2 linked regions of the Homo sapiens genome follow. The protein of the gene in region 2 purifies or fractionates together with the protein of the main gene of each other region. This does not show direct contact. Each region holds a gene or a part of one and is shown on either strand. Other genes may lie near its edges.

The links.
Region 1: the proteins of SOX1 (region 2) and SFMBT1 purify together in Homo sapiens (affinity purification with mass spectrometry; one large-scale study listed by BioGRID and IntAct). This does not show direct contact.

What each region holds. Positions count from the first base shown.
Region 1 is NC_000003.12:52,902,852-52,906,660, forward strand, and holds the end of SFMBT1 (scm-like with four MBT domains protein 1), read right to left. Parts: intron 3,391-3,809; coding exon 3,262-3,390; intron 2,426-3,261; coding exon 2,285-2,425; 3' UTR 721-2,284; downstream 1-720. UniProt on the Homo sapiens protein: Histone-binding protein, which is part of various corepressor complexes. Mediates the recruitment of corepressor complexes to target genes, followed by chromatin compaction and repression of transcription.
Region 2 is NC_000013.11:112,065,593-112,069,948, reverse strand, and holds the start of SOX1 (transcription factor SOX-1), read right to left. Parts: upstream 2,801-4,356; 5' UTR 2,291-2,800; coding exon 1,115-2,290; 3' UTR 1-1,114. UniProt on the Homo sapiens protein: Transcriptional activator. May function as a switch in neuronal development. Keeps neural cells undifferentiated by counteracting the activity of proneural proteins and suppresses neuronal differentiation.

The sequences.
Region 1 (3,809 bases), on a different chromosome or scaffold from region 2:
AGCCTTTCTCTAGGAACGGGCTGAGCCTGAATAATCATGGTATAAACAAGCCTGTTGGGCTCTGACTCTACCTAGATCAGAGACTACGTAGGGCTGTATGTTTTGCCCTTCAGCGCCTTCATCCCCTCACCTGTGAAGGGAGATGATTCTTAATTCTGTGGTTTCTGGAGAAGTCAAAAGAGAGACAAAATAAAGCATTCATTGTTCTTGTGTTTGGTAAATTCCCTCTTATAGGAAATATATTTCACTTTCCTAAATAAGATAATAACACGAGGCCCTAAACATTAATTCCAGAAATTCTGTTCCATTATTCTTCCTCAAGGGGCCCTCTTTTCCTTAGTACCTTGACTGAACTCTCAGGAAATTTCATTAAGCAAGATTACCACCACTACCCACCAAAAGCTTAATGTTTAATGCTAATTATTCCCTAGCATTCCCTATATATCCTTGTCTTCCACAGACACAGATTTAAATTTTTAAAAACTGGATCTCTAAGTTTCAAACATACTAATTTTTACTTAAATGAAGCTTCTTCCCAGATAGATCTGGTAGGAACCTAAGTGAAGAGTTAATGATTTAATGTATGATTTAGTTGCAGGGCTTGAGTTAAGTTGGTTTATGAATTACCCAATGAAGAGAGGCTCCAGATTATTCATCAATGTCCACAAAAATAGGTTGGGGTGGTGGGGAATGGGAAAAAAAAATCACAATCAGTTAAAATTTGCTGTAATATTTCCTTATATTTGTAGAGCTGTTTAGAATTCACCCAGTTTGCAGGATTAAAACATTTTCAAATCTTGAGGAAGAATGATTGGGTTATAAATTTGCAGGTGATTAGGATAAAAAAAATTCAGCAAAGCAAACCATTTAAGGGAGACAACCTATGTATGTTTTTCCTCACTCCTCATGACTAGAATAGTGCAGCAAACGCTATTATTCTATAATAGCTAGCAATGGAATAGTAAGTGAAAATTCACCTGGAGTTTCATGTTAACTTGAGCTGGGCTAAAAGACACACTTAAAAGAATACTGAGTTGTTTAAATGGGAATCCTCGGACTAAAGATTATATTCAATTTAAAGGATTAGCTGAAAAAAGTCTAAGTGTGGCTAGGCAAAGAGGTTTCCAGAATCCTTAACCACATCTCAGTATTTATCCTGCCACTGAGGACACTGCTAACAGAAACTCCATGCTCTGCGTTACCCTCCAAAACATGTTTTCTGTGCTGTGCTTCTACACTGGAGACACCTGGAAAGAAGGACAAATGGGCTTCGCTGTGGGTCCATGGAACACTTACTGATTTTCACCCAAAGTAAAGACCTTAGAAATGAAACAGAGGTAGACAAACAACTCTAGAGAAAAGTAAACACAAAATAAAAGTCACTGAAGTCCCTCTGAGAATGAATAGGAAGAGGGCAATTAAACAGAAATACTAACAGTCTTGGTGATGTTACTTAACACAGGCAGCCTCGGCTGGGTCAAGATGGAGAACAGTAACAGTAGAGTTCTCAGATCAGGTCAGTTAAGGAACTGGTGTAAGTGCCCCATATAATGTTTTTAAGAAAGCAAACAGTTTCCCCCCCTCCAAATTCTGTCATAATTTTAGTGTTTATGTAGCTTAAAAATGGCATCATACAAAAAACCTCATACATGGCTGTAAGCTCAATTATCAACAGAGGTAGTAAACAAAGGAACTCCTAAGAATCGATTTTAAAATGATCAAAGTGTGACTATACATTCAAAACCCTAGAGCCACATAATCATCCCCAAAATGAACTGTTTTAATTTTAAAAAGTTTAAAAACACAATGACAATGAAGCACTGATATGCCTTAGGAACAGTCCCAAATCAGTGCTGACTTAAAGCTAAGTCCTCTCTTTCCAAGAAAAAGAAAGCAGAGAACAAAGTTCAATCTACAATGGGAGGGAACAGAATGAAAACAACCAAAAGGGTGCTTTCCAGCAGCCTAGGTTATTCTTTGTTTTCAGGCCACACCACTGGAAATGCTTTTCTTCTTATATAAGTCTTTTCCTCACAACCTTTATTTTTTAAAAACTGCCATCTGCTGAACAAGAGATGTCCACATTTCCACCAGCAGGTGATCCACTTCTGTGCACAGTTTTTGCTTCCTCACTGTGAGTCCTCCTTCCCCGAAAGTGCAAAGAGAGCAAGCTGATACCTGCAGGCCCCAGAGCCCCAGGACTATTCCAGCTCCACTTATAAAGCAGGGTGAAGGATTTGCTGCATTTGTGCTTCAAAGATCCAGCTCACTTTGGTTGTCCTTCTCAGTTGGCAAACTGCTCATAAAAAGCAAACTTGATCCTCTCTATGTGATGGCAAAGTTTGATGGCAGGGCCCAATTTTAAGTCCATGCATTCTTGAACAGTGGGAAGGGTAAGGAGCAACAGGGCCTGCCCATCAATTTCCTGTTAAAGCATAAAAGACAAATTATCTGTGATGTGCACATGAAAGGCAGCTTGATCATGACAGCCTCTCCTCACTTTAGCTCTGTCAAAACTGGAATCCCTATGCTTTCCTTTCCTTACTTTTTCGTCTTAGGTATCACACACTTCCTTTTAAGTGACTCCATAGTCTTCCACACTAATGAAGCTTCAGAATTAATAAAGTTTTACTGAGGACAATAAAGTTTTACCAAGGATAAGAATCCATTCCAGAGTCTCTGTCCCATAGAAATTTAGTAAACTGACTAGCCCTGTAACTGGCAACTAATTGTGCCATCTTTTTAGAGGGTTCCTTCTAAATCTGAAACAAAGGATTAACTATCAACTTCAATGTTTTCCTACTCTGTAACATTCATAAAAACCCGATAAGCTCTTGAATCTCCCTAATTTTCTAAACAAAACTTATTTCAATGTTTAAGGCCACTGACTGTGTTTCAGCAAGCTTGCCTTAAAACTTATCACCACTCTAGAGCCTAATGTGACAGATGCTATTTTTTTTTAAACAAGCAAATCATTATTTTTGAAAAGATGTGGACAATTAAGCATGGTATGCTTGATATTGGAGGGATGGAATCAAATTCTTAGGAAAAACTGGAATGCAATGATAATCTCCTTCAACTATGAAGCAAGTCTGATAAATAACTTTTTATCATCTTTGACTCCTAAAAATGGAATTAAGACAATTCTTGTCTTTTGGATCAAAACATTTTTCCTAAAACTTGTAAATAAATTGTTGACTATTACATCCATAATTTATTGCTAAAGAGACATTACTAAAAATTATAGGTATCTGTGATTACCTGGTCTAGGAATATTCTTGCTAATGGAGCACAGTCAGTGGATCTGATGAACCGCACAACGTCTGCCACACTCCACTTCAAGGGGTTACTGTCCAGGTGAAGCCTTTCAGCAACTTCGATCCTTATTTCCTTCATTCCCCACAACACAATCAAACCAAATGGTGTTACGGCTATTTTATTCTAAAAAAGTCTCTCTACCTAAATTCATAATCTTTCAAGACATGATTTAAAGTGGTCTTAGGACATGATTTCTCCCAGCAAAGATGGCAAAGACCCACGTGCATCAGGTACTCAGGAAATGTCTGTCTTTTATAATACGAAGTATCAATGGGAAAGAATTTATCTCAAAGTTCCAGCACAGATAATTTAGACAATTTAACTAAGAAAAACAGGGTGCTGAAGAGAAGGGGATGATAATTCCATTGAGAGAAGGCTTAACTAAACTACCAGGAGGAATCTTTACTGCTTCTGTTCATGGAATATTCTTAAAAAGCAATCTAGTTTTTGAACACTAAATTGTTCTTTAGTGTTATACATATGTTATAAAA
Region 2 (4,356 bases):
CCAGCCAGGTGGAAGGCGCCCCGCTTGCAGCAAGGTAACGCGCAGCAGCCCCAGCCGTCCGCAGTGAAACAGCCGGAGCAGAAGATACTTTTATTTCTCGGCCCGTATTAACACTCAGCTCTACAAAATAACCTATAGGTTTTAACTTCCTTCTCTTTCATTGAAAAAGGTTCCTTGAAAAATCCTGTCCTCCCATTCCCCGGGGTTCCCTTACTTTTAGTTCATACAGATAATTTCCCTGTCAGATTTCCTCATTGCATTTTGAACTCATAAAACATGCACATAAAAATAGCATGTTACAAATTTATGGAGAAAATGGGCTCTGTCTCTTAAATTTGTTGACTCGAAACATTTTGGGTGGGGGGTCTTTTTTCGTTTTTAGAAGAAAGGCTTTTTAGAAAACTATGTACATAATCTGACTTCTCCTCCCCGCATTGCAACGCCGAAAATAAAATTTTTCACAATGCATTTACAAGAAATAATACAAAACCCAAAAAAAAAAATGGAAATGCTCAGATACATAAAGTTTTACAAAACCCAGAATATAACTCCGCCGTCTGAAGGAGGGGGTGGTGGTGGTAATCTCTTTGTATAAATTAACAAACCAACCCAAAAGAGCGGTAACAACTACAAAAAACTTGTAAGTGCTTGGACCTGCCTTACTACATTTATAACAAATGCGACGAGCTCCGCGTCACTTGGGCTCCGGCGGTCGGCGCCGTCCGGAAGCAACGCGGAGGAAAGTGAGCGCGCCGGCCGGTATACAAAAGTGGGCTTCGCCTCTCGCCTCGTTTTGACTTTTTTGTCCCCTCGAGCAAAGAAAACGCTTTCCGCTTCCTCCGTAGGTGATAAATACTGTACAAAAAGTCTCAAGAAAACACCGAAGTTCAGTCTAAAACCCAAGTCTGGTGTCAGCGCCCGGCGGTCGCCAGGGTCTCCGGGGAAGGTGAGTGGGGGACACGCGTCACCCGGCGTTCGTCTCCAGTATTTTCCTTTTGACAAGAATGTGGGAACGTCTGTACAAAAGCCACGCCGCGCCGGGGCGGGGCGGGAGCCGGGCGCGGGCCGCGAGCTCGTGGGTCGCCGCCGCAGAGTCCCCGGCGTCCCGAAGGCGCTAGATGTGCGTCAGGGGCACCGTGCCGTTCACGCCCGCGCCCGCGCCCTGGTAGTGCTGCGGCAGCGAGTGCAGCCGGCTCTGCGCCGCGGCCGCTGCTGCCGCCGCCGGGTCGCCCCCCTCGCCGGCGGGCAAGTACATGCTGATCATCTCGCGCAGGTCCCCGGGGCACGGCGCCCGCGAGTGCGCTGGGGCGGGCGGGCTGCCGCTGGGCTCCGACTTCACCAGAGAGCCCAGCGCGCCCAGGGCGCCCGACGACGCGGCCGCCGCCGCCGCCGCCGCCGCCACGGCCGAGTTCTGGTGCGCGCCGCCCGCAGCGGCGGCGGCGGCGGCCGCGGCGCCGTAGGGGAGGCCGCCGTAGCCCGAGGGCGACGCGCTCATGTAGCCCTGCGAGTTGGAGATGGGGCTGTACTGCAGCGCGCCCATGTCGTAGCGGTGCATGGGCTGCGGGTTGTGCGGGTGCGCGTGCGGGTGGTGCGGGTGCGGGTGCGCGGGGTGCGCGTGCGGGTGCGCGCCGCCCGCGCCCGGGTGCTGCCCGTAGGCCAGCTGCGCCTCCTGCATCATGGCCGCGGCCGCCGCCGCCGCCGCCACCGAGCCGGGGTAGGCGCCGTTGGCCCAGCCGTTGACGTGCGCGTAGCCGCCGCCCGCCGCGCCGCCTGGGCTCTCCAGGCGCTGGCCCACGGCCGCCGCGCCCACGCCCACGCCCACGCCCATGGCCACAGCCGCGCCGCCGCCACCCGCGCCGGCCGCCAGGAGCCCGCCGGCCAGCGAGTACTTGTCCTTCTTGAGCAGCGTCTTGGTCTTGCGGCGCGGCCGGTACTTGTAATCCGGGTGCTCCTTCATGTGCAGCGCGCGCAGCCGCTTGGCCTCGTCGATGAACGGCCGCTTCTCGGCCTCGGACATGACCTTCCACTCGGCCCCCAGGCGCTTGCTGATCTCCGAGTTGTGCATCTTGGGGTTCTCCTGGGCCATCTTGCGCCGCTGCCCGCGGGACCACACCATGAAGGCGTTCATGGGCCGTTTGACCCGGTCCTGGTTGGCCTTGGCGCCCCCGCCGCCGCCGCCGCCCCCGCCTCCGCCCCCGCCGCCGCCCGCCCCGGCGGGGCCCGAGAGGTTCGTGGGGGCCTGGGCGCCGCCGGGCGAGTGCAGGTCGGTCTCCATCATCATGCTGTACATCGGGGCGGCTGGCGGGTTCACCGGCACCGCGAGGAGAGGGCCTGGAGCATAGACGGCCGGGGTGGGAGGGAGACGGAGAGGAATTCAGACGGAGTGAGACGGGGGCGGGGGGGTCCTAGCGGAGAGAAGAATGGGGAGGGGTGGAGGCAACGACAACAAAAAAAGGCAGAAACACACGCACTCGGCGCCGGTTCGGCTCGCAGGTGGAAAGTTTCTCCTGATGCACAAACCACTTGCCAAAGAGGCCGACGGTCGGGGTCGCCGTCTTCGCCGCCACCGCAGCCCAGGCGCCCTCGGCGGAGCGGTGCAAACAGGTGCAGTCGTGGCCAAGTTGCAGCTCCGCTTTTGGGGCCGGGAGCGGTGCGCTGGGCCCGGCCCGGGGTGTGCTGTCTCCTCGCCGGCCGCCGCTGCGCGCTGTCTCCTTCCTCCTGCGCTCGGTCCTCAGCGGCCTCCAACTCGGAGGCTGCAACTTCTAGCAGGGCGGCGCGCCGCGTGCGCTGGGCATGTGCTGGTCCCAGGTGCCCGGGGGAAGCCAGGCGCCAGTGGCGGGGGGGGGGAGGCGCAGGGGGGCCTGCAGGGGGCGATTACGGTGCAGCCAGGGAGGGGCCCGGGGACAGCGGGAGGAGCGCGGGCTCGCGGAGAGGGCCGGAGAGCCGGGGCCGCCGAGCCCGGGATGGGCTGCCCGCTGCCTGCCCGGGGCCGTGCGCTCGGAGCGGAGGCGCACGCGGGGCCGGCGGCGCGCGGGGCCCAGCAGCCATACGCCGGGCCCGGGCTGCCATTAAATGAGCGCGCCGCGGCCAATGGGAGCCGGCGGCGGCGGTGATTTGCATGGCGCGCTGGCGAGTGACGTGGGGAGGGAGTAGATACACTGGGCGCGGGCGGCGGAGCGGGGAGGAGGGGAGGAAGGAGGGGGAGCAAAGCAGGAAGGAGGGGGGAGGAGGCCCGGGAGGGGGTGACAGCCACACCGCTTCCTGAGCGCGCGCGCGCGGCGGCGGCGGCGGCGGCGAACCCCGAGCTCGCCCTCCTCGCCGCTCCCCGCCCGCGCGTTCCGAATGATTAACGATTGGGTTGAAAAGCGAAGACTAAGAAAGGATCGTCGTGGGGTGGGGGGAGGAAACGCAGCCCCTGGCCAGGTTTAAACGGGCGCAGTGGAGACCCAGCTCCTCCTCTGCCCCCGCCGGCCAACTCTGTGCCTGCAGGGAAGGGGAAAGTTGAGTGCGGGGCTGGCACGTCGCCCTCAGTTCCCCCGAGTGCTGAAAAGGAGGGGCGCTCCCTTGGACGCAGGGGATACCCTCCGAGGGCCCCTGCAGGTTCTCTGCAAGGATCAGGCGGCTCAGCCATCCCCCGCCCTGCATCCGTTCTCGGCCGCGGCGTGCACTGAAGTTCGCCAGTGCCCGCTCTTGCAGCGAAGGCCTTCACAGTCCAGGCCCCACAATTCGGGTAAAGGGGGAGTATTTGTGTGGGCATGGCTCCATAGCTTCGTTTAGTATCAGCCCTAAACTTTTGTGGGGAGGAGTCTTTCAATGAGCCCGGGGCCATAGTCACGCACTCTTCCCAACCCGGATCTTCTTCCTCTGGAAAAGGAATTTCTAGGAAGGCCGAACACAACAAGATCTATCTGGAATCTAGTTCCTGAACAACAGTTGAAAAAGTTTGTTGAATCGCAAAATAATGATATGGCGCACGCTTTTCTGGAGTGAATTTCCCACGAGCTGGTTGCCTAAGAACGGAGAAAACTGCGTGAACTGCGCGGGGCCACATAAACCGAATGAAAGGCGGGGCCTCAGGACGGGTCTCAGCCGCCGGTCTGCGTCATGCAAAGGAAAGGCCTGGCTCGTGGAAAGAGTAAGGCATTCACCTGTGGTTATCATTCTTAAACCTCAAAGTGGCTTTGATTTGGGAACGTGAAAGAGATTTTCAAACGCAGTCTCAAGTAGCATAGCGCTCACACTACCGTTTCCACCAGACTGATCTGAAAGTGGTCCAAAGACGACTTTTGAGCCCAAGTATTCCTCCTCTGCCCTCCCCGAGGCACCCTGAGATGAGAGTGCTTGTGGAGATTGGTG